Homo sapiens: one gene and its partners. The protein of the gene in region 7 interacts with the protein of the main gene of each other region in a biochemical or structural test. Each region holds a gene or a part of one and is shown on either strand. Other genes may lie near its edges. The genes, in order: PLCG2, GRB2, FYN, SYK, ITK, PTPN1 and LAT.

Region 1 (3,500 bases), about 53 Mb from region 7:
GGAAATACAAAAATTAGCCAGGCCCAGTGGCGTGCGCCTATAATACCAGCTACTCAGGAGGCTGAGGCACAAGAATCTCTTGAACCTGGGAGGCAGAGGTTGCAGTGAGCTGAGATCGTGCCATTGCACTCCAGCCTGGGAGACAGAGCGAGACCCGGTCTCAAAATTAATTAATTAATTAATTAATTAATTAGCTGGGCACAGTGGCACACACCTGCAGTCCCAGATAGGAGGCTGAGGTGGGAGGATCACTTGAGCCCAGGAGCTCGAGGCTGCTGCGAGACGTGATTGTTCCACTGCACTCCAGCCTGGGCAACAGAGCAACACCTTGTCTCAAAAAATTGATTCATCTTCATCCACCCAAGCAGCCCAAACCTGAAAAGCCAGGCTCCCAGGGAGGCACAGTTATTGCCACGTGTCTCAGAAAATCGAAGACGGAGATCACAGCAGGAGTTTCACAAGGTTTTGGGTTGTTTTCGGGTTATTTCTTAAGATAAGAAATAGCAAGTTTTAAGAGGCAATCCATAGGAAAATGTGACAGAAAAAGTGAAAAAAAAAGTTGCTATAAGTAATACGGCCTCCTCGGAAATGGACATTTTTGCAGCTTTCTGCCTAAAAATTGTTTTTTCTTTATTCCCAGAATTTGTTGACCCTTCGCAAGACCTACCTTGATACTCATTTCACTAGATAAAAAAAATCAGCGGGAGACTCTTATAATCATTGTTTCCTTGTTCATTTTCAGAACAAACAGGAAGGAGCTCTGAAAGGTAAGAGAATATCCCCAGGCCAAAATGACCCTCTGAAAATCAAAGCCCAAAGTCTCGGGGCTATGAAGACAAAGTAGAAGAAAGGGAAAAGAGAAAAGGGGAGGAAAGAAAGAAAAGAGAAAAGGACACAGGTCATGGTGCCAGGAATTTGGAAACTGGCCACCTCGGCAATTTTGAGATGCCGGTGGGCTGGGGAGAGGGTGTCCTGGGGGACTGGCCCGGCTGAACCACCAGGCCAGCTTCTCTGCCTGGTGGAGCTAACCCGACCACCGCCTGCCTCCTGCTCCACCCTCAGACACGTACGGCTTGGACTCGTGGGGGTTGGGGTTGGGCACAGGGTCCGTGAGCCGCAGCTCGAACTCGGCGCAGCGCAGGTGCGTCTCGCGGTAGTGCTGGATGAGGGCATAGATGCTGCTGAAGGTGAGGTTGTCAGTCAAGTAGTATTTCAGGGTCCCGCCCTCCATGGTGGAGCGGATCCGGCAGTGCTGGACCCGGCCTGACCGCCTGCGGGGAGAGGACGCCATCAGTGCTGGGAGAACGCAGGCCAGGCCATTGCGGCAGCCAGGGCCTCAGAGGCGGGGACATTACATGTGGCCACACAACCTTCCCTCTGCTCCTAGAACAGACACAGGAGGCTGGGCGCAGTGGCTCATGCCTGTAATCCCAGCACTTTGGGAGGCCGAGACGGGTGGATCACCTGAGATTAGGAGTTCCAGACCAGCCTGGCCAATACAGTGAAATCTCGTCTCTACTAAAAATACAAAAATTAGCTGGGCATGGTGGTGCATGCCTGTAATCCCAGCTACTTGGGAGGCTGAGGCAAGAGAATCACTTGTACCTGGGAGACGAAGGTTGCAGTGAGCCGAGATCACGCCACTGCACTCCAGCCTGGGCGACAGAGCGAGACTCCATCTCAACAACAACAACAACAAAACCAGATGCAGGGCCTTAGTATAGGCTAGACCCTCAGCCTGGATTCCAGAACATTCTACCTACTTCCCCCACCCCACCCCACCCCATCCCCCTTTTATATATATAACTGCTTCTCTAGAGCCAGGATGCCTGGATTCAAATCCCAGCTCTGCCACATATGAACCAAGTGTCCTGGAGCAGGTCACCCGTGCTGTCTGAGCCACACTGTATTACTACCCCAGCGGTCTGACAGGAATGATAACAGTATCCACCTCAAAGAGGCATCCTGAAGAGTAAACGAGACCACACACACAAGGTGTCTCGAATACTGCCCAGCACATGGTAAGCATCATTTAGGTGTCCAGGATTATTTGCGTGTTATTAGTATTCTAATTTTCAGCCAGGTGCAATGGCTTACAGCTGTAATCCTAGCACTTCAGGAGGCCGAAGCCAGAGGATTGCTTGAGCTGAGTTCAAAACCAGCCTGGGCAACGTAGTGAGACTCCAGCTCTACAAAAAATTTAAAAGTTATTCAGGTGTCGTGGCATGTGCCTGTAGTCCCAGCTACTTAAATGGCTGAGATAGGAGGGTTGCTTGAGCCCAGGAGTTTGAGGCTGCAGTGACTGAGACTGCTCCATTGTACTACAGCCTAGGCAACAGAGCAAGACCCTATCACAATTTTTTTTTAAGTGACAGAATTATAATTTCCCTCTTTCAGGTCTCATCTTCTTTCAGGAAGGTTTTCCTAACCATTCCCCACGTCAGGGCATCAGAGCCTTCCTCACAGACTTTCACAAATCCCCCCAACTCACATTAAACCCCCCCAATAAAGGGAGGGATGTCCCTTTATGTTGCCTTGTTTCATTGCACTCATCACAACTATACTTGCAAATCATTTGAGTGACTGCTTTTTCATTGCCCATCTCCTTCAAAAGACGCTAGTGTCCAGGAGGACAAAGACATTGTCTGTCTGGCATAAGTACTGTGTCTAGCACAGGGCACGCCCTCAAGAAGTATCTTTTAATGCACTGAGACATGGATAAGTGGGTGGATGAATGAATGCACAAGCTCATCACAGCCTATGACGGCTTCAAAAGGACAGCCCTAGAGTCCTCGTTTTATGGAGGAGACAGAGATGCTAGAAGGTTGGCTGAATCATCCAGAGCCACATGACCCACTCCAGGGCTGGGATCGGGGAAAGTGAGTGAGACCACATCATCTAAGAGTAGGGTCAGATCTTGTCTTTGTTTAAAATGTTCATATTTTGTTCATCACAGACTTTTTTGCATTACTTTTGATTTTTTAAAAGATTGCCCTGAAATCTCATTAATCTGGGTTACAGTGCCGAAGTGAGTCATACCCACCTCACCCTTGTCCCGGCCTAGAAGAGCTAGACAAATGAAGCCTGGGATTCAGGTCCCAGCCTGCCCAATTCCTGCCTGAGCTAGAACCACTCGCCACCCTGCCTCATCGGTTGGCATGGAGAAGAAGGTAGGCGTTCCCTGGGTCGGGGGCATTACCAGAAGGACAGGGTGTAGTCATTGGGGAAGGTCTCGCTCTCCCGAACCAGGAAGGTGCCATCCTTGCCCCCCGTCTCCATGCAGTATTCCTGCAGCAACTTCTCGGCACTCGTCCTCTTCTCCACCTTCTTGTGGAACCATTTCTCCCCAAAATGTAGTTCTGTAGGGGGTATATCCTGGGCCGCAAAGAGAGGAGGGGTTTCTGAAAGCCTTGGACCAAACCCCAGCATCACTAGACAGGTCCTTCTGTCTCACCCTGACCCAGGGTACCAGATAACATAGAGAGGCCAGCCTCAGCTGG
Region 2 (3,500 bases), on a different chromosome or scaffold from region 7:
AGCAGCTCCCTGCAGCCAGCTGGAGCCTGCCAGTTTTCCCTAGTGCCCAGCACTCCTGAGCTTCTGCCCTCCAAGGGATTCCCGCAGCTCTCTCTAATGGGATAGTGGAGCGCCTGTCGGCTGCCTTGGCTTGCCTTGCTCAGGTCCACTGACTTAAATCAACCAGCCCCATCCTAGGCCCTCACAGTCACTTAAGAAGGCTGCTGCAGGGGATGTGGGGCTTGCATTTCCCCGGTGGAAAGTTCAGGTGTGAAAGGGAGCGGGTAAGCAGGGAATGGAGAAGACAGGAAGTTCTGCCGCCATGGAGAGTGTGGAGAATAGAAACCAGCACTTGAAGATTCTAAACAATTCACACCTCAGCTGTGAAGTCGGGATTTTGAATTAAATTGTTATTTCCATGTTTTTTACTTTCAGTTATTTTCTAGTTAATGTATTATCATAGGACCCTCCCCAGGAGTCCGGCAGATCACTTCATCAGTTATATATAAAGAAGTAATTAGATTCAACACTCAGATCACTACTTAGTTTAGATTACATTAAGATTGTTTTGTTTTTGAATGGGGGATAGAAAACCATTTTCCTTTTATTTTATTTACTTATTTTTGAGACAGAGTCTCGCTCTGTCCCCCAGGCTGGAGTCCAATGGCATGCCTCAGCTCACTGCAACCTCCACCTCCCAGGTTCAAGCAGTTCTCCCTGCCCCACCCTCCGAGTACCTGGGATTACAGGTGCCTGACACCACGCCCGGCTTATTTTTGTATTTTTAGTAGAGATGGGGTTTTGCCATATTGGCCAGGCTGGTCTTGAACTCCTGACCTCAGGTGATCCACCCACCTCGACCTCCCAAAGTGCTGGGATTACAGGCTGGAGCCACTGCTTCCAGCCACCATTTCCCATTTATAACTGATGTAAAGCGTGAGACTTTTCCATTTCAAAAATGAACTGACCAGCCTGGCCAACATGGTGAAACCCTGTTTCTGCTAAAAATAGAAAATAACCCAGGCATAGTGGCACACACCTGTAGTCCCAGCTACTTGGGAGGCTGAGGCCAGAGAATCATTTGAATCCAGGAGGCGGAGGTTGTAGTGAGGCGAGATGGCGCCATTGCACTTTAGCCTGGGCGAAGAGCAAAACTCTGTCTCCAAAAAAAAAAAAAAAAAAAAAAAAAAAACTGGGTGCGGTGGCTCACACCTGTAATCCCAGCACTTTGGGAGGCCGAGGCAGGCAGATCACCTGAGGTCAGAAGTTCGAGACCAGCCTGGCGAACATGGTAAAACCCTGTCTCTACTAAAAAAAAAAAAAAAAAAAAAAATACAAAAATGGCCTCGGCGTGGTGGCGTGTGCCTGTAATCCCAGCTACTCAGGAGGCTGAGAGAGAAGAATCACTTGAACCCGAGAGGCAGATGAGCCAAGATCGTGCCACTACACTCCAGCCTGAGTGACAGAGTAAGACTGTGTCTCCCAAAACAAACAAACAAACTGAATATCTTATTTGGTTTTAGAACCACTTAATGTGTGATTAAAATGTAGATTTTTTTTTTGAAACGTAGATTTTAAATTTATAGTTGTGGCCCGGCATGGTGGCTCATGCCTGTAATCCCAGCCCTTTAGGAGGCTGAGGCGGGCCGATCATGAGGTCAGGAGTTTGAGACCAGCCTGACCAATATGGTGAAACACTGTCCCTACTAAAAAAATACAAAAATTAGCCAGGCGTGGTGGCACATGCCTGTATTCCCAGCTACTCCGGAGGCTGAAGCAGGAGAATCACTTGAACCTAGGAGGCAGAGGTTGCAGTGAGCCGAGACTGAGCCATTGCATTCCAGCCTGGGTGAAAGAGCAAGACTCCATCCATCTTTAAAAAAAAAAAAAAAAGAAAAGAAAAACATGTGTGACACCTGTCTTTCTTTAGTTTTATACTGACCCAAGTGTAACTGAAACCTTATAAGATGAGGGGAACAAGCAGTAAATCACTGGGTGGTGGCCAAAACCACGGGGGCAGCCACGTGCTCGGCTGGACGCTGCCTGTTTGCTCAGCAGAAACTCTCAAACTTCCATTTTCTCAAGTAGAATCTTTTAAGGATTTAATGCATTTATTGTTTTAGAAGCAAAGCAGGTGTCATGACTCTCTTTAACAACACACACACCTCTGCAAAAAAGGTTCAAGAATCAACAGTTGTCAGATGTTTCTTAGTTTTAGGATGTTTTGAGCCTGTGATTTGAAACACTGCTCATTATTGGGGCCCTGGGCTCTTAGAAACCACCTGCATTGCATGGGTGGAAGTGGGCCTCTGTGGGGCCAGAAGTGCCGTGGAATATACCCTTGCTAATGAAGCTTTCTCACCTTCCACATTTTGTCTTAACATGTAAAGCAGTATTTTTTCCAAATGCGAGGCATCTTGTGCTGAGTGGCTTCCTTGAGGCTCAGTGCTGCCACCTGCCGGATTGATTTTCTGAAGCCTTTGGTTTCCATCAGCTGAAAGACTGAAGGAGAGGAGGGACTCATTCATTCATTGAACAAGCACTCTCAGAGAATGCCTTTTTTTTTTTTTTTTTTTTTAATGAGATGGAGTGTCACTCTGTCGCACAGGCTGGAGTACAGTGGCCCAATCTCGGCTCACTGCAAGCTCCTCCTCCCGGGTTCACACCATTCTCCTGCCTCAGCCTCCCGAGTAGCTGTGACTACAGGCATCTGCCACCACACCTGGCTAATTTTTTGTATTTTTAGTAGAGACGGGGTTTCACTGTGTTAGCCATGGTGGTCTCGATATCCTGACCTTATGATCCGCCCACCTCGGCCTCCCAAAGTGCTGGGATTACAGGCATGAGCCACCGCATCCGGCCGAGAATGCCGAGAGTGCCCGGCCAGGTGAACAGGACAGGCAGAAGCGCCCTCGCTAGGCTGGTGTTTTAGCCAAATATCCTGTGACAGACCCTGTGAGCTAGTACCAGCCAGCCACGCTGTTGCCGGTTTTGCTTGCCAGTATAAAAGGGTGTGATCTAGTGATGGAGAAGCTTTTGGGTTTTGAAGTCTGGGCCTCTTTTATTGTCCCAGTACGTCCTTTTGTTCAGAGACCTTTTCCCCATGAGTGGAGCTAAAATTCCTGAATGGAAAACATTACTTTGAACTATTCCCAGTTACGAGAGAATTGTTGAAAGTATTTCCAGCCCTCCTCACCTTCTTCCTGCATATAAGATTTTAATTATTTTTTTATTCAAAGGATGTTAAGTCACACTCCTTTGTCTTAAGTACGGCTGTTTTTATTTGGTAGGGTTCAGGGCACATGGACTCTTTTTTTTTTTTTTTTTGAGACAGAGTTTCACTCTTGTTACCCAGGTTGGAGTGCAATGGCGCGATCTCAGCTCACCACAACCTCGGCCTCCCAGGTTCAAGTGATTCTCCTGCCTCAGCCTCCCGAGTAGCTGGGATTACAGGCATGCACCATCATGCCCAGCTACTTTTGTATTTTTAGTAGAGATGGGATTTCTCCATGTTGGCCAGG
Region 3 (3,500 bases), on a different chromosome or scaffold from region 7:
CAGTGCTAAATCCAACTGCATTTTTTGTTCTTTATGTTGCTCAACTCTGAAGCTGGTCTAGTACTCCGCAGGCTCCTCTCCCATTCTGGGCCTGACTCCTCCTCTGTTCCTGGGCTTGCTCTCTGCCCTTTCTGCTCTTTCTACTCCACACATTCTCCCTGGGTGACCTCACCCACATCCATGGCTTCAATTTTTGTAATTTGTTTGCTAACGAATTTATATTCAAGACCTAGTCCTGGCTGGGAGCAGTGGCTCATGCCTATTATCTCAGCACTTTGGGAAGCTGAGGTAGGTAGATCCCCTGCAATCAGAAGTTCGAGACCAGCCTGGCCAACGTGGCGAAACCCCAATAATTAGCCGGGTGTGGCGTTGGGTGCCTGTAATCCCAGCTACTCGGGAGGCTGAGGCAGGAGAATCGCTTGAACCTGGGAGGTGGAGGTTGCAGTGAGCTGAGATCACGCCATTGCACTCTAGCCTGGGCAACAAGAGCGAAACTCCGTCTCGGGAAAAAAAAAAAAAAAAAAAAAAAAGACCTAGTCCTCTTCCCTCACTCCAGACCTCTCTATTTACCTGCCTATGAGCTACTACACCTGGAAGTCTAAAGTGTTTAAGATAAAGTCATCGCTTAGATACCTGCCCCCTGCTTTCCTTATTGGACTGCTTGTCTCTACCTAATTTCCCAGAGAAATTCTTTTCTACCTACCCCTACACCCTGTCTACTGCTCTCTAATTCTTTTTTGCTCCATCTGCACCTCCTTTCCTTCCATTTAGACCCTCATCTACTACTCATTTAAGTTTCCATAACTACCTTCCCTGCATTAGTTCTGCCTGCCCTCGGTCAAAGGCCCATACTGTGGCCAGATCTTTATAAAAATACAATCACATCAAAGCCACATCTCCACTTACAACTCTTAAATGGCACTCAGGATAAAGTACGTACAAGAATCTTTCTCAGTTTCTCCTTCAGCTCTGTCATTTCCCTTTGTCCATCTCTGTACCACTCCAAACAGCCCTGAACTAACTGCAGTTCCCCAAAAGGTCTGTGCATTCGCCCTCTGGGCTGTTCTTTCTGGGACAGGGAGCTTCCCACAACACTCACCTAGCCATCTCTACTCATCTTGCCTTCAGACCCCTCCTCTTCCAGCCTTCTCTGCTTGGCTATCCCACTTGCCCACCTCTTTTCCAGGTTCATGCTCCATTCTGCACACTCTCTGCCATCCTACATGGACCCCTAAAATCCCAGCATTTCTAACATTGGTCAGAGACTCCTTTATAGCTCTGCAAAACTAGCAAGTAAGTTCCTTCGGGACAGGATCACATCTCTTTTGCCTTGAACCATCGAATTAATTGTCTGGCAAATAGAATACGCAATGAATGAATGCTGTTAAATGAGTAAGTATGTAGACAATTCATAAACTTATACAGACCTAATTGTGTACCACAGAAAGACCCAGCTTTAAATAATCACACAGAGTAAAATTATTTCCAGTATCGACATGCCTTGCTTTACCATTGTTTAATTTAATTTTGTATTTCCCAGGTAAGTAGTAGATAAGTGTCTGAATGGAAGGAGGGTAGGGATGAATATTGTATTTCTATTTGGCTATAAAATTATATTTCTCATCAACCAAAAGTCTTAGTTTCTAAAGCATTTCAGTCACCCTCCCTTATGGCACATAACGTATTTTAATATCATCATTATATGTAGTATTTTGAATATTACCTAGTGGCTAAGGGCAAAGGCTTTGGAACCAAACTAATTGGACCTGAATCCTGACTCTACCACTTAGTAGCTGTATGATCTTGAATTAGTTACTTAACAAGCTACTAAAGTTTGCTTCAATTTCCCATCTGTAAAACGGAGATTATAAGTGAAACCACTTCATATTATTATTGTTAAGATCGGAGCTTAAACAGTGCTTGGCATATAGTAAATGCTCAACAAATGTTAACAATTATTAATTATTTTTATCTCTTCTAGTAGACCGTGAACTTCTGAAAAGCAAGGACAGCAGAAGTATTCATTTCCAGGACCTCATCTCCCCAGTGCCTTGCACAAAGTAACATACTAGGCTAATGTCTGCAGAACAGATGAATATAATGAAGTATTCATGGCAAAAAAAAGTGCATTAACAATTATGATGGCTGGTATGAATGGAATTGCTCCAACAATTTGGAAGCCTGTGGAGAACAGGGACTACCCAGAACACTAGAACCCTGCTCATGGAGATTTGGAAGCTCACTTAACCTCCGTGGAATATGCAAGACTCACAGACAAAGAGGGCAGCTGAGTGACAGAGGAGACCCATGTGGGCCTGAAGAGCTGGCTGGCTGAGCCTCCTGCCCTTCCGTTAAGAAGCTGCAAGGCCTTGGGGCAAGGAGTTTCACCTCTCAGGCTAATTAATTTCCTCTTCCAATTAAGAGGGAGTGGGACTGTGATTTCTGTTTTTCTTTTTGAGATAGGGTCTCACTCTGGAGCCCAGGCTAGAGTACAGTGGTATGACCTCAGCTCACTGCAGTCTCTACCTCCCAGGCTCAAGTGATCCTCCCACCTCAGCCTCTTGAGTAGCTGGGACCACAGATGCATGCTACCATGCCTGGATAGTTTTTAAAAGATTTTTCGTGGAGACGAGGTCTCACTATGTTGCCCAGGCTGATAACAAACTCTTGGGCTAAAGTGATCCACCCACCTCAGCCTCCCAAAGTGCTGGGATTACAGGCGTGAGCTGCAACATCCAGAAGGAGTGTGATTTCTAAGGACTCTCCTAGCAACTTTGGGAGTCTACAGAATGACCAGATGAAAAATGAAGCCAAGAAAGGTGCTTTTGGAGTAAAAGAACCACATCAAAGTCAACACAGGAAGCATCAGATGATTGTATCACATGGGATTATTGAGTAGGAATTGGCAACATTTGAAACATAAAATTTGAAACATGACAAAAAGTAAGATTTTTGAAACATGCTTAGGATGAAAAGATCTAAACTTATAAAATCAAAAGAAAAGCAATGACGGGTGTCCGCTCTAGGTTTCTATTTAATTCCCATTAGCCTATAAGTTTCTTGAGGGCAGTGAATGTGCCTTGATAAGTGGCAGTGTTTGACAAAGCTGTTCAATAAAAATACATTTATTCTGTATCTTTTTTCTGAGCACATGGCTAAACTACATTTCCCAGGCTCCCTTGCAATTAAATGTGGCCATATAACTAGCCCTCAAGTAAAGAATGTGAGAGGAAGTGATGGTGGCACTTCCAGGCTAAGGTATTTTAAAAGTGGGTGTGCCCCGTCTACTCTCTGTTGCCCCTTCTGTAAACTGAAACAGGTTACGATGATAAGCTATGGGATGGTGGAGCTACAAGATAGGGGTGTGGGACCCAGAGTCACTGCATGGAGGAAAGCCACCTACCGACCAGAAACATGAATTTTTGACTATTAAATGAGCAAGAATAAACGTCTATTGCTTTTGAGCCATTATATATTTGCAGGCCTATTTGTTACACCTG
Region 4 (3,500 bases), on a different chromosome or scaffold from region 7:
ATCATTCTGTCTTACTCCAAGTGAGTTTCTTCATCTCAACAACAGCTTTAGATGAGAAGAACACAATTACTCCCTTGATGGATGTAATCAATTAGCAGTGATTGGTATTTTCAGAAGTCATCACTCATGAGAACATAAGGTCAGCCAAACAGATAAGACTTAACTGTCACCTCTTAGAAAAGCATTTATTTAAAATGTTTCTTTAAAAAGAAAGTGTTCTTCCCAGTGAGAAAGGAGATTCCATGTCAAGATATTCTGAGGCTGAGTCTATCACTAGGCCAAGACTGAATGACTACAGGAAGAAAAAAAAGACAAAACTGTCAAATGAGTTCTTCTCTGAACAACTAGAGCTAACAGAGCTGAATCCAAAGACTATGTCTCCCTGTCCCTCTGTCAAGGTCCCTGAGTATGGACCAATAAAGGAAGGCACAGGAGGGTGGGAAGGCTTCCCAAGGAAATCAGGCTGCTCGGCCCATCCAGGGGTGGGCCCTGTCCCTTAGGGGATAGCTTCCAGATGTGTGGGGGCACCTGACAATACCTGTTCTGCTGCAAATACTTATTGAGGGGACCAAGTTCTGCCATCTCCATAACCAGCATCCAGGACTCGGCCTCGCATATCCCGATCATCCGCACGATGTACGGGTTGTCCAGCTGCTGCATGACATTTGCTTCTGCTAATAACTCATCTTTAAGAGCGGGGTCATTGGCCTCGTTTTTCAGTATTTTCACAGCCACGGTTTTCACAACTCTGCAAGAGAAATCATAACACACAAGAAACTTTCCAAAATGCCTCACTTCTAGATAATCTTATCCTGTGAAGCATAATCCCCCTGTGGAAACAGTCCCACGGAAATACCTGCCACAGAGTGGCAATGTGTCTTCAGAAGCCTGTAATGGATGGCTGGCCTTCCAACCTATATTCCCTTATTTTATAGACAATGAGAGTAATACTCCATTACTAAAAAAGAATGGTGGGGGCTGGGCATGGTGGCTCATGCTGACAATCCCCATACTTTGGGAGGTTGAAAGGGGAGGATTGCTTGAGGTCAGAAGTTCAAGGTCAGCCTGGGCAACATAGTGAGACCCCCATCTCTAAAAAAAATCACCCAGGTGTGACAGTGCAAGCCTGTAGTCCCAGCTGCTCGGGAGGCTGAGGTGGGAGAATCACTTGGACTCAGGAGTTCAAGGCTGCAGTGAGCTTCTTGCCACTTCACTCCAGCCTGGGTGACACAGTGAAACACTGTTTCTAAAAAATAATATAAAATAAAAAGAATGGTGAAGAACAGTACTGAAGAATGTCCCAACCAAGCAAAAACCCTAAACTGTAAAATATTTAAATAACTTGTAAATAAACTTCACCAACGATGACATGTACGAATTCCTGTAACATCTTGGGATTCACCATCTCAGATTACATGTAATGAATGTGAATATAAAATGCCTTTCATAATTGTTGAAAGTGAATTTCTAGGTGCAGAATTTAAAAGCATATATTTCAATGTAATACATTGAAAAGGTAAACAACTCTCCTGAGAGAGGCTGAAGAAGACCTGGTAAATGGAGAGATGGGCTGTGTTTATAGATTGAAAGACTCAGTATTGTAAAGACATCATTTTGCCCCAAATTGACCGAGAGAGCCTCTCCTCTCCCCAAATTCTCTAGTTGAAATTATGTCCACAGTCATGTCTATGTTAATTCACAAATTTAAGCACAGAATAAAGATCACAACCTTTCATAATCTGAAAAAGCTTAGGATTAATACAGAAACATTTTTACTCATTGTACAAAATGACTGTGATATACAAACATATATTTTAAAATAAGTATCACAGCCAATTTTGATTGTGTGTGTATATATGTGCGCATGTATATACTTGTGAATGTATACATATGTGTGTATGTTTGTGTGTGTATACATACATGTATGTGTATCTAATTTACACACACACACATGCACAAAAACAAATCGAAGGGACAGATTGGAAAGCAAGCATTTCTTTTTTCTTTCTTTCTTTTTTTTTTTTTTTTTTTGAGGCAGAGTTTCACTCTTGTTGCCCAGGCTGGAGTGCAATGGTGTGATCTTGGCTGGCTGCAACCTCTTCCTCCCAGGTTCAAGTGATTCTCCTGCCTCAGCCTCCTAAGTAGTTGGGACTACAGGTGTATGCCACCACACCCAGCTAATTTTTTGTATTTTTAGTGGAGACGAGGTTTTACCATGTTGGCCAGGATGGTCTTGAACTCCAGACCTCAGGTGATCCACCTACCTTGGCCTCCCAAAGTGCTGGGATTATAGGCATGAGCCACGGCACCCGGCCGGAAAGCACGCATGTCTGTGTATATTTTTGTCTATATTTTTAACCCTTGAATCATAAAAATTACCTACTCACGAATTTTTTTTTTACAAAAATCCCTTACATTTGAAATACCATGAAGCTACTAAATCTAACCACATTCATATTAGTATCATACCAATTCAAACAGAGGGTGTATTTCAAAGGACTTTAGAAACCAGTAGTTTTACTTGTACATTCTATGTTGGGTACCTTCTAAAGACCAAAAGAAATACAAAGATATTTTCGAAATTTAGCAATTTTAACTGTTGTATAATATGTATTGTTATCTGAAATCATAGGATAAAGCCAATAAATAATTATACTAATCATATTTGGAATCAATAATTTTCATGTAAGAAAAATGAGATGTAACTATAAAATTAAAGAAAATAAATGTAAAAACTATTGTTATAATGGAATGATTTTGTTTTAATTAAATAATATCTGTGTGTACAAATAAAGATCTAAAAATATATACAATAAGATTAAGTTAACAGTAGTAATGTTTAGTTAACAGTAGTAGTGTTGGGATGGTATTATACAAATATGATGTTCTTCTTTTCTTTTTTTTGTTTTGTTTTTTGAAACAGGGCCTTGCTTTGTTACCCAGGCTAGAGTGCAGTGGTGCAATCATGGCTCACTGCAGCCTTGGCTTCTTGGCCTCTTGAGCAGCTGGAAGTATATGTGTGCACTACTATGTCTGGCTAATTTTTTATGTTTTATTTATTTATTTATTTATTTATTTTTTTTGTAGAGACAGGGTCTTGCTATGTTGCCCAGGCTGGTCTCAAGCTCCAGGCCTCAAACAATCCTCCTATCCCAGCCTCCCAAATTGCTAAGATTACAGGCATGAGCCACCATGCCAATTTGATGTTTTTATTTTCTTATGTTTCTGCTTGTTTCTATTTCCTAATTTTCCATAAGGTGCATGTACTATTAGGTTGGTGCAAAAGTAATTGCAGTTTTTGCCATTAAAGGTAATGGACGCTTTCATTATAATAGTACCAGAAATTAACAAGAATGGTAGCATTAATAAAAAAAGGGTTTAGTCATGCCAGGTTACATTTTGTTATTCTCAGTCATGTCTAGAACCTGAGCTCATGTGAGGGTGAGGCTGGTGGAACATAGCAACTTACTTTTTCATTTGGTAGTAGCCCTTTTTCACAG
Region 5 (3,500 bases), on a different chromosome or scaffold from region 7:
AAAAAACTAAAAACCAGACACCACAAAGCTTTCCTGTATTTGATAGGGTCTGCTTCTCGCATCTTGAATTTTTTTTATCTCAGTTCTGTTCCTCAGCTACTAAATCAAAGATCAGCTTCCGGGCTGAGGACCCAAAAACAGGAAGTAAAGACTGAATTCACTTTGGGAGAATTTGATGATGTAATGGGTCCCTGGATATCAACCAAGCACGCTCATATATCACAAATCTCTTGCGATAGTTAAGGCTTCCTTAACTTCTTTAATTGGGAAGATACCCTTTATTGAGGGCATCTGTTATAAGCCAGTTAATTTGTTGACATCATCCTATTTTATTCCCCAATCAACTCTCAAAAGGTAGGTATTATCCCCACTTATCAGATGTAAAAACCAGGGTTCTGGGAAGTTTAATGAATTGCCCAAAGTCACAGAGCTCTTATAGTAAGAGGCAGAGACCTACTTTAAACATAGCTTTCCCAAACGTGTGCTCATTTCACCATCATTTGCTACCTCCTTAAAAAAATAAGGTAGAATGGGGTTTGGGCCACAATCCTGAACACCATAATCCCAAATATTGAAATACAAAATGTAAAAATACCCAAAAATATAATTCTGGAAAAAATAATTTTAAAAACTTTTTTAAAAGACATTTGTTTACATTTTAAAGTGGATTTATTTGAGAAACATATGAAGACATGACGAAATGCTTCATAGGCCACCTTGTGCAATAAAATAGGCAATAATAATATACATATTTTTGCAAACATAAACACCCAAGTATACTAAGGACAGTCACATGGGTATAACAGTTATGAGCAGACAAACTATATTCCTAAAGAAATAGCTGGTATTCAAGGGGAACGCCTTCAGCTTTCGCCCATTCAGTATGATGTTGGCTGTAGTTTGTCATAGATGGCTCTTATTATTTTGACGTACGTTCCTTTAATATCTAGTTTATTGATAGTTTTTAACATGAAGCAATGTTGAATTTTATTGAAAGCCTTTTCTGCATCTATTGAGATAATCGTGATTTCTGCCTTTAGTTCTATTTACGTGATGAATTACATTTATTGATTTGCATATGTTGAACCAACCTTGCATTCCTAAAGCCTACTTGATCATGTAAAAAAGGATTAGCCTTTTTTTTTTTTTTTTTTTTGAGTCAGTATTGCTCTGTCACCTATGCTGGAGTGCAGTGTCATGATCTTGGCTCACTGCAACTTCTGTCCACCTCAGCCTCCCGAGAAGCTGGGACTACAGGTGTGCACCACCATATCCAGTTAATTTTTGTAATTTTTTGTAGAAACAGAGTTTCACCACGTTTCCCAGGCTGGTCTCGAACCCCTGGGCTCAAGTGATCCACCCTCCTCAGCCTCCCAAAGTGCTAGGATTACAGGCATGAGCCACCACGCCTGGCTGGATTAGCTTTTCGATGTGCTGCTGGATTTGGTTTGCAAGTATTTTCTTGAGAATTTTTGCTTCGATGTTCATCAATATTGGCCTGAAGTTTTCTTTTTTGTTGTATCTCTGCCAGGTTTTGGTATCAGGATGATGCTGGCCTCATAGAATAAGTTGTGGGGGAGACGCTCCTCCTCAATTTCTTGGAATGGTTTCAGTAGGAATTACATTGGCTCTTCTTTGTACATCTGGTAGAATTCGGCTGTGAATCCATCTGGTCCCAGGCTTTTTTTGGGTGGTAGGCTATTTATTACTGATTCAATTTGGGAGTTTGTTATGGATTTGTTCAGGGAATTAATTTCCTCCTGGTTCAGTCTTGGGAGGGTGTATGTTGTCCAGGAATGGATTCATTTTTCTAGGTTTTCTAATATGTGTGCATAGAGGTGTTCATAGTAGTCTCTGATTATTTGTATTTCTGTGGGGTTAGTGGTAACATCCTCTTTGTCATTTCTAGTTGTGTTTAATTGGATCTTCCTTCTTTTCTTCTTTATGAGTATAGCTAGTGGCCTATCTATCCTATTAATTTTTTCAAAAAACCAACCCTTGGATTCATTGATCTTTTGAATAATTTTTTGTGTCTCAATCTCCTTTGGTTCAGCTCTGATTTTGGTTATTTCTTTTCCTGTATCTTAATTACAGAGATTATGACACAAATGTATACATTTGTCAAAACTCACTGAAATGTACATTGGTAAATTTTATTATATGTAAATTATACTTTAATAAAGCTGATTTTTAAAACAAAAAAACTAATATGCAATATATTTCACCTTTAAATTTTTTTAAAAAAGAAACAGCTTATATAACCATGGTCATCTGAAATGCTATGATAGACAACCTAAGTCTTTTAATGAGATTAATCAAAAACAGCAGAAGAAAATTCTGTCCCAACTCTCAGAGACAGACTAATTTGCCTTCAGTATTTGTTCTCTTAGGGTCCCTGGCTGATTCAATGGTGTCCACCAACACTGAGGGCAGATCTCCCCCACCTCGCCCATTCTGATACACATACTAGTCTACTCTGGAAACACCCTCACAGACACACCCCAAAATAATGCTTTATCACGTATCTAGATACGTCTCTTTTTTTTTTTTTTTTTTTTTTTTTTTGAGTCTTGCTCTGTCGCCCAGGCTGGAGTGCAATGGTGCGGTCTCCACTCACTGCAAGCTCCGCCTCCCGGATTCACGCCATTCTCCTGCCTCAGCCTCCAGAGTAGCTGGGATTATAGGCGCCCGCCACCACACCTGGCTAATTTTTGTATTTTTAGTAGAGGTGGGGTTTCACCATGTTGGGCAGGCTGTCTCGAACTCCTGATCTCAGGTGATCTTCCCGTGTCGGCCTCCCAAAGGGCTAGGATTACAGGCGTGAGCCACCATGTCCAGCCTTAGATACTCCTTAATCCAGTCAATTTGACACCTAAAATTAAGTCTACAAGTCCATCCCTTGTCTATTTGGCACCCATACATATCTTAAACCACACGTAATTTCCAAATGAAGACAATAACAAAGTAATAGTTCTGCCTAACAAGATGCAACTAACATAATGAGGCTATCCTGTGTACAACAGAAAATTCACTAATCGTGATTTTTGAGATTTTAGATGTTAAGGACTTAGACTTCAGGGATTTTTATCATTCAGGATTTCAGCATTCAGGACTATGACATTCAGAATCGTGTCTTTTGGGATTGATTGGTAGTGGGTATAATGACGTATTTTGCAACTGGTTCCATAGCTGAATTCCATAGCTGAATTCTCAATGGCAGCTCAATTCTAGGTACCTGTGAGAGGCTTCTTCCATCCAGAAGCACTTTCCTAACTATCTTTCCTTGGAGCCTGATAGACCACCAATGGAATTTGTTCCATTGGCTAAAGCATCAAATCCCCTGAGATCCATTCTCCAAGCACAAGGATCCTTAGAAATAGGTAACATGTAACATCATTATAAATCACAAATACCATCATGTGAATTAGTTATCAGGGAAATACAGCTAGCAAGTTTCCAAGGAAATGAGACACAGGCCCAGTAGTATTTGATGGGGAGGT
Region 6 (3,500 bases), on a different chromosome or scaffold from region 7:
GAAAAAGGAAGCCCCTTAAATGCCGCACCCTACGGCATCGAAAGGTAATATGATTGGGTCCCAGCTTGTTGGGGTGAGGGGAAATGACTTTCTGTTCTAGAAACACACGCTGGTACTGAAACCCTGTGGATGCAGCCTCCTGTTGGCAAGCAGCGCTTCCGCATCCTTGGGGAACAGGGCGCGTGGACCACAGCCACTCCACTCCTGGCTGCTGGAGGTCCGGTATTGGGCACAGGGTGGCCGCAGGACATGAGCCACTTCTGTGGGCTTCTAGTGCCACCTTGTGGTGCTTGTTGGAATGAGGGGCTCGGAGCCACCGAGTAGGGTTTTTCTGCCCCCCCTGACGACAGCGCCCTCCCCCAGGTTTCCGGACAGTCCTGAAATGTGATGTCCAGGCTTGAGTGCCCTCAGTCCCCACAGTGGTCCTTTGGGGAATGTAACCTTTTTTATGTGGTCTTGATTAAATCCCATTTTACTTCCTTGCAGGTTAACAACCATTATTGAGTACCTATTGATATGTGTGGTGTACTGAGTTAACTAGAACATGTCCCCTGGTCTGTGTTCTAGACCATCTTGCTGGGAAAAAGGCAGACCCAAAGCATATTTTGGTGGGGGCCCATGGACAGTGATGTGATAGAGGTGTCCGCTGAGGTGGTCAGGGAAGGCTGCTTGCAGTAGGTGGCCGTGCACGGAAAGTTTGCAGAATGAGCAGGTGTTAGTTCCAGCTGGAGATGACTGCCGGCTGTGCCCTTGGTACCTGCTTTCTGGAGGGAAGTTTTAAGACGTGTGCATACTTGACCCAGCAGTTGTATACATGGAGAAATTTACTTTGCAGCAACTCTCAAAACAAGCGTGTAAAGATGTGTATAGGTAGTTGTGTTTGTTGTGGCATTGTTTGTAGTAGTGAAAAATTAGAGACAGGCCAATGATATAACCAGGGACCTGATCAATTATGTTCTCTCCCGGTGTTGGGATATTCTGTAGCTCTTAAAGAATGAGATCTGGGTGTACTGATGTGGCCAGACATTGCAATTGCAGTACATGAGAAGGCAAATCATACAGTAGTGTGTACACCAGTGAGTCCTCCAGCCAGATAAATCCTCACAGTGACCAGTCGCCCAGGCACCTTGTGAACCCTACCCTGGGTGTGGGTGCTATCTGAAGTACCTGGGGGAGGGGGTGACAAGTGGACTTCAGGCTGATGTGGGCCCTGGCCTGGCCCTCCCTCCAAGCAGAGGGGGCTGGCTCGCTGGAAGGTTAACATCATCCAACTCTGTCTACACGTGGCTTGTTTTTTCCTAGAATTCCTGCCACAATAGCAGCATCCTTGCCATTCATTTTCTCCAAAGTGAGTAACCCATCTCTGCCCTCTGATTCCTCAGCATGAGTCAAGACACTGAAGTTAGAAGTCGGGTCGTGGGGGGAAGTCTTCGAGGTGCCCAGGCTGCCTCCCCAGCCAAAGGGGAGCCGTCACTGCCCGAGAAGGACGAGGACCATGCACTGAGTTACTGGAAGCCCTTCCTGGTCAACATGTGCGTGGCTACGGTCCTCACGGCCGGCGCTTACCTCTGCTACAGGGTATGTTTCCACTGACAGACGCGCTGGCGAGATGCTCGTGTGCAGAGAGCACTGGCCGCTAGCCCGATGGTAGGATTCAGTTCTGTGGTGCATCTGAGCCAGTCTCAGAAGAAACAGATCAAAGGTTTTTAAAGTCTGGAACTGTGGAAGGGCTAACAAGAGAATTAAGGATCGATGCACTGGGGTTTTAAGGAGCCCTCTGGTCCCAAGAATATAAGAGTCTAATCTCAGGGCCTTAACCTATTCAGGAGTAAGTAGAGAAAATGCCAAATACGTCTGTTTCTCTCTCTCTTTTTTTTTTTATTCCTTTGTTTTTGGAAAAAAATAGAGTTACAACACATTGTTGTTTTTAACCTTTATAAAAAGCAGCTTTTTGTTATTTCTGGAACAAAAAAAAACAAAGTAGGCACTTATGAAACTTTCTCATACCCTTAGGTGATGTAATCAGCCATATAATTTATATTTGATTTCCCAGGGAAGGAATCCCAAACTTTTACGAATGTAAACTCCCTTGGAGAAGAGGGTTAGGACGCTGTTGCGCTCAAGCCCCCCTCAGCTGTGTGCACACTGAGCCAGGACAGGGTCTTTGAGCTTTCCCACTATAAGAAGAACAGCAACAAAAGGCCGTCTAGAAAAACAGAACCTGCCTCTGCTTCTGCTCAGGGTGTCCCCGCTGGGTTTCCATTGTCCTTTCTCCATTGCTCCCTCCTGTGACAGCCATCTTGCTCATGTACCAGCCCTCATCACCCCATCCCCATAAATGGGTGTCCTCGAGGCCTCTGCCTGGGGGTCAGAGGTCACCACAGGGTGGCCATTGGCATGTCAACCCGCTGTTAATTCAGAGAAGTGGGCTCCACCTCATTGGGAGAAGTGCCATTTCAGCAGAAATTCACACGTTAGACGTGTGTTGCTGTTAAGTAAGGGGAAGAGAGAGGACTAGCCTCAGAGCTCTGGCCATGGAAATGACCTCCTAAGACTTTTTCGTGGTTTTAAATATTTTACCTCTTTCCAGGTGGCATCTGAGTACATCAGATGGTTTTGCAAAATGCAAACAATTTTTTCCTTGGGGATGATTTTTGGGGAGAGGGGGCTACTGTAAAAAATAAAACCAAAACCCCCTTTGCTCCCTCGGAGGTTGAAGTTGCCGGGGGGTGTGGCCGGGGTCATGCATGAGGCGACAGCTCTGCAGGTGCGGGTCTGGGCTCATCTGAACTGTTTGGTTTCATTCCAGTTCCTGTTCAACAGCAACACATAGCCTGACCCTCCTCCACTCCACCTCCACCCACTGTCCGCCTCTGCCCGCAGAGCCCACGCCCGACTAGCAGGCATGCCGCGGTAGGTAAGGGCCGCCGGACCGCGTAGAGAGCCGGGCCCCGGACGGACGTTGGTTCTGCACTAAAACCCATCTTCCCCGGATGTGTGTCTCACCCCTCATCCTTTTACTTTTTGCCCCTTCCACTTTGAGTACCAAATCCACAAGCCATTTTTTGAGGAGAGTGAAAGAGAGTACCATGCTGGCGGCGCAGAGGGAAGGGGCCTACACCCGTCTTGGGGCTCGCCCCACCCAGGGCTCCCTCCTGGAGCATCCCAGGCGGGCGGCACGCCAACAGCCCCCCCCTTGAATCTGCAGGGAGCAACTCTCCACTCCATATTTATTTAAACAATTTTTTCCCCAAAGGCATCCATAGTGCACTAGCATTTTCTTGAACCAATAATGTATTAAAATTTTTTGATGTCAGCCTTGCATCAAGGGCTTTATCAAAAAGTACAATAATAAATCCTCAGGTAGTACTGGGAATGGAAGGCTTTGCCATGGGCCTGCTGCGTCAGACCAGTACTGGGAAGGAGGACGGTTGTAAGCAGTTGTTATTTAGTGATATTGTGGGTAACGTGAGAAGATAGAACAATGCTATAATATATAA
Region 7 (3,233 bases):
AGTGGGGGCCTGTAATCCCAGCTACTCAGGAGGCTGAGGCAGGAGAATTGTTTGAACCCAGGAGGCGGAGGTTGCAGTGAGCCAAGATCACGCCACTGCACTCCAGCCTGGCGACAGAGGGAGACCCCATCTCAAAAAAAGAAAAAAAAAAAAAAGGAAAAAGAAAAAACAAACACACAATCTCTAAAACTACATGGAATGAGATTGGGAAAGGAGTGAATTGCAGAGGAAAGCCAAGGTGAAATTCCCAAAATAAGGGGAAATGGATCCCGGACAAGTAAAGGCAATAGATGCTCACCACGCCCTTGCTCCTCAGGATGAGGTTCACAGAACAGCAGCATCAGAATCACACAGGAGAGGCTCAGAAATGCAAAGTCTCAGGCCACGTCCTAGGCGAACTGAGTCAGAACCCACCCCACAGCAAAGTCTGCCGGTGAGTCACCTACCCATCAAAGTCTCAAAAGTGCTGTGCTGCATATTAACTTTTTCAGTTACTTAGACAATTTTTTAAGTTCTGTTTTATTGAGAACCACAAAAGGTAAGAACTAAGAGAGTCCTCCCAGGTCATCAGGTCCCATCCCTTGGTCTAAGGATGGTGAAACCATTGTCACAGCCAGCAGCTGCCGTGTTCTGGGACTGTCTCATGGGGCAATGTGTCCTCACCCCCAGCAGTGCCAGCCCAGGTCAGAAGGCTTCATTCAGAAGGGGGGTGTCACAGCACCTGGCTGAGCCCCCATGGAGGATGGAGACCCACAGATACACACAAACACACAGAGACATCTCCAAATCTCTGACTCAGACTCGCACACAGGCACACACAGACGCACGCTCAACACAGACACACGCAGGCCTTTATTCTATTACACAGAGTAGGGCTGGGGCCAGGGCAGGTCATTCTCAGGCTGCGTCAGAAGGTGCAGAGCGTTCGGGGGACACAGGCCGAACCCCAAAGTGATAATAAGTTACGGGGGGATTTCTCAGGCTGTTGTCAGGCTGGAGCAAGGGCAGGACGCCATGTGAGGACCCCAGAGCCACTTCCAGCTGCCCAGCTCAGCCGTCCCAGGCAAGCCTGGTTCCAGGACAGACTCGGCCTCCACTGAAACACACCAGGGCAGGGAGGGATACGGATCAGGAGGCTGACGGGGTTCAGCAGGTACCCAGAGACAGAGGGACAAGCCAGAGGTAGGGTTGGGCAAGGGGGTCCTGGAGGGAAGGAGTAGAGCCTGTGGGCCCAGGGCAGGGTGGGGACAGGGCAGGCCTCTCACCAGGCCCTCAGTTCAGCTCCTGCAGATTCTCGTAATCTGGAGCCCCCTCTTCCTCCACTTCCTCTGCCTCCTGGGAACTCAGGGCGGCTGTAAGGGAGGGGAGGTTGGTCTCCAGCTTGCAAGCTATCCCCCCAAGCCCAAAGCAGCTACCCCAGCTCCTGCCCCTCCCGCAGAACACACCAGGCTCAGTCTTAGCCGCTCCAGGATGCAGTTCCTGGGACACATTCACATACTCCCGGCTGCCATCTGTGGGGACAGATCAGAAGGAGGGGCAGCCACGCAAAGGGGTCAGGAGGGCGAGAGAGCAAGGGGACGCCCAGACAGAGGGGGCAGAGGGTGTGGGTAGCCCCAGGGTGGGATCTGGTCACACTGAGAGCATGGTGGGGCAGCGGGGTGCAGGGGCAGGCACCGACAAGCACCGGTCACTCACCCAGAGACGCTTCTGCGCTCTCCCCGCTCTCCGGAACGTTCACGTAATCATCAATGGACTCCACTGTGGAAAAGCCAGGCCCACCTCGGCACTGTGACCAGAGACCCTTGGCCACAGGTTCCCAGAGAACCCCCAACCTCAGCCATGCAGAGCTCCCCAACGGTAGACCCCAGAGGCTTCCCACACAGCCACCCCCATTAGCCCCACAGAATGAAGAGAGGGGACTCCAGGCTGGCAAGGATGGTGTTGGTGATGGTGATGGTGGCCTGGACAAGGGCAAGGGCTGTGGAGAGGGAGGGAGGAGGTCCACTTGACTGGGACTGAGGAGAGCTCACAAAGGGTCAGGCCCCAGCACAGCCCCTAGGCTGGGGAGCAGGGATGTAGTGCGGCTCGGAGCAGTGGGAGTTTGGTGGCGTGTGTGGAGGGGACATGACACACTAGGCCCAGCAGGCACCTCCTCCCCCCGACCCCCATCCCCACCTGCCCCCTGCCAGCCACTGCCTATGTCTCACTCCCATGTCAGCCCTTCATGGCGCCTGTCACCATCCATGTTATTTGGGAGCTTTTTGTTTGTTTTTGTTTTTCTTGAGACAGGGTCTCGCTCTGTTACCCAGGCTGGAGTGCAGTGGTGCAATCTCGGCTCACCGCAACCTTGACCTCCTGGGCTCAGATGATCTTCCCACCTCAGCTCCTACCAGGCCAGGCTAAATTTTGGAATTTTTGTAGAGATAGGGTCTCCCTATGCTGCCCAGGCTGGTCTTGAACTCCTGGGTTCAAGTGACCCACCTGCCTCAGCCTCCCAAAGTGCTGGGATCACAGGCATCAGCTACCACGCCTGGTTATTTGGTTCTTTTATTTTGTTTATTTATTTATTTTTGAGATGGAGTCTCCCTCTGTCACCTAGAGGGCTGGAGGGCAGTGGGGTGATCTTGGCCCACTGCAACCTCTGCCTCCCGGTTCTAGCAATTCTCCTGCCTCAGCCTCCTGAGTAGCTGGGATTACAGGTGCCCGCCACCACGCCCTGCTAATTTTGGTATTTTTAGTAGAGACTGGGTTTCGCCATGTTGGCCAGGTCAGTCTCGAACTCCTGACCTCAGGTGATCCCCCCACCTTGGCCTCCCAAAGTGCTGGGATTACAGGTGTGAGCCACCGTGCCCGGCCTATTTGGTTCTTTTATGTGTTTCTTGTTTGTTTTTGAAGACCGCCCCGGTTCAATCCCAGCTCCAGCACTAACCAACCACATAACCTCAGCCAAGGGACCTTACCTCTCTGTGCCTCAGTTTTCTCCTCTGTAAAATAGGGCCTGTCACACAGCAGTGCTGTTAAACAGATAAACCCTGTATCCCACAAAAGGGACAACTGGAGCACAGGAGGGCGCGGGCAGGCCCGGGAGCCCCAGGGCAGTCAGATTAGTGAGTGAACACATGTCAGACTCTTAGCAAGGCATGCAGGAGGCCCTCGGTGAATCTTAGCTATTTTATCTTTTTTTTTTTTTTTTAACACAAGGTCTCACTCTGTCACCCAGGCTGGAGTGCAGT

What was found.
Region 1: the proteins of LAT (region 7) and PLCG2 interact in a biophysical measurement, tested with the Homo sapiens proteins (one study listed by IntAct).
Region 2: the proteins of LAT (region 7) and GRB2 form a complex in vitro, tested with the Homo sapiens proteins (3 studies listed by BioGRID and IntAct, with this or other methods).
Region 3: of the proteins of LAT (region 7) and FYN, one has a biochemical effect on the other in vitro, tested with the Homo sapiens proteins (one study listed by BioGRID and IntAct).
Region 4: of the proteins of LAT (region 7) and SYK, one has a biochemical effect on the other in vitro, tested with the Homo sapiens proteins (one study listed by BioGRID).
Region 5: of the proteins of LAT (region 7) and ITK, one has a biochemical effect on the other in vitro, tested with the Homo sapiens proteins (one study listed by BioGRID).
Region 6: of the proteins of LAT (region 7) and PTPN1, one has a biochemical effect on the other in vitro, tested with the Homo sapiens proteins (one study listed by BioGRID and IntAct).

The regions. Positions count from the first base shown.
Region 1 is NC_000016.10:81,908,291-81,911,790, reverse strand, and holds part of PLCG2 (1-phosphatidylinositol 4,5-bisphosphate phosphodiesterase gamma-2), read right to left. Parts: intron 3,376-3,500; coding exon 3,200-3,375; intron 1,272-3,199; coding exon 1,071-1,271; intron 1-1,070. UniProt on the Homo sapiens protein: The production of the second messenger molecules diacylglycerol (DAG) and inositol 1,4,5-trisphosphate (IP3) is mediated by activated phosphatidylinositol-specific phospholipase C enzymes. It is a crucial enzyme in transmembrane signaling.
Region 2 is NC_000017.11:75,322,179-75,325,678, reverse strand, and holds part of GRB2 (growth factor receptor-bound protein 2), read left to right. Parts: intron 1-3,500. UniProt on the Homo sapiens protein: Non-enzymatic adapter protein that plays a pivotal role in precisely regulated signaling cascades from cell surface receptors to cellular responses, including signaling transduction and gene expression.
Region 3 is NC_000006.12:111,866,953-111,870,452, forward strand, and holds part of FYN (tyrosine-protein kinase Fyn), read right to left. Parts: intron 1-3,500. UniProt on the Homo sapiens protein: Non-receptor tyrosine-protein kinase that plays a role in many biological processes including regulation of cell growth and survival, cell adhesion, integrin-mediated signaling, cytoskeletal remodeling, cell motility, immune response and axon guidance.
Region 4 is NC_000009.12:90,874,819-90,878,318, reverse strand, and holds part of SYK (tyrosine-protein kinase SYK), read right to left. Parts: coding exon 3,470-3,500; intron 749-3,469; coding exon 539-748; intron 1-538. UniProt on the Homo sapiens protein: Non-receptor tyrosine kinase which mediates signal transduction downstream of a variety of transmembrane receptors including classical immunoreceptors like the B-cell receptor (BCR).
Region 5 is NC_000005.10:157,204,840-157,208,339, forward strand, and holds part of ITK (tyrosine-protein kinase ITK/TSK), read left to right. Parts: intron 1-3,500. UniProt on the Homo sapiens protein: Tyrosine kinase that plays an essential role in regulation of the adaptive immune response. Regulates the development, function and differentiation of conventional T-cells and nonconventional NKT-cells.
Region 6 is NC_000020.11:50,579,883-50,583,382, forward strand, and holds part of PTPN1 (tyrosine-protein phosphatase non-receptor type 1), read left to right. Parts: coding exon 1-44; intron 45-1,382; coding exon 1,383-1,578; intron 1,579-2,809; coding exon 2,810-2,833; 3' UTR 2,834-3,500. UniProt on the Homo sapiens protein: Tyrosine-protein phosphatase which acts as a regulator of endoplasmic reticulum unfolded protein response. Mediates dephosphorylation of EIF2AK3/PERK; inactivating the protein kinase activity of EIF2AK3/PERK.
Region 7 is NC_000016.10:28,988,052-28,991,284, reverse strand, and holds the end of LAT (linker for activation of T-cells family member 1), read right to left. Parts: intron 1,759-3,233; coding exon 1,696-1,758; intron 1,512-1,695; coding exon 1,446-1,511; intron 1,353-1,445; coding exon 1,273-1,352; 3' UTR 1,266-1,272; intron 1,097-1,265; 3' UTR 501-1,096; downstream 1-500. UniProt on the Homo sapiens protein: Required for TCR (T-cell antigen receptor)- and pre-TCR-mediated signaling, both in mature T-cells and during their development.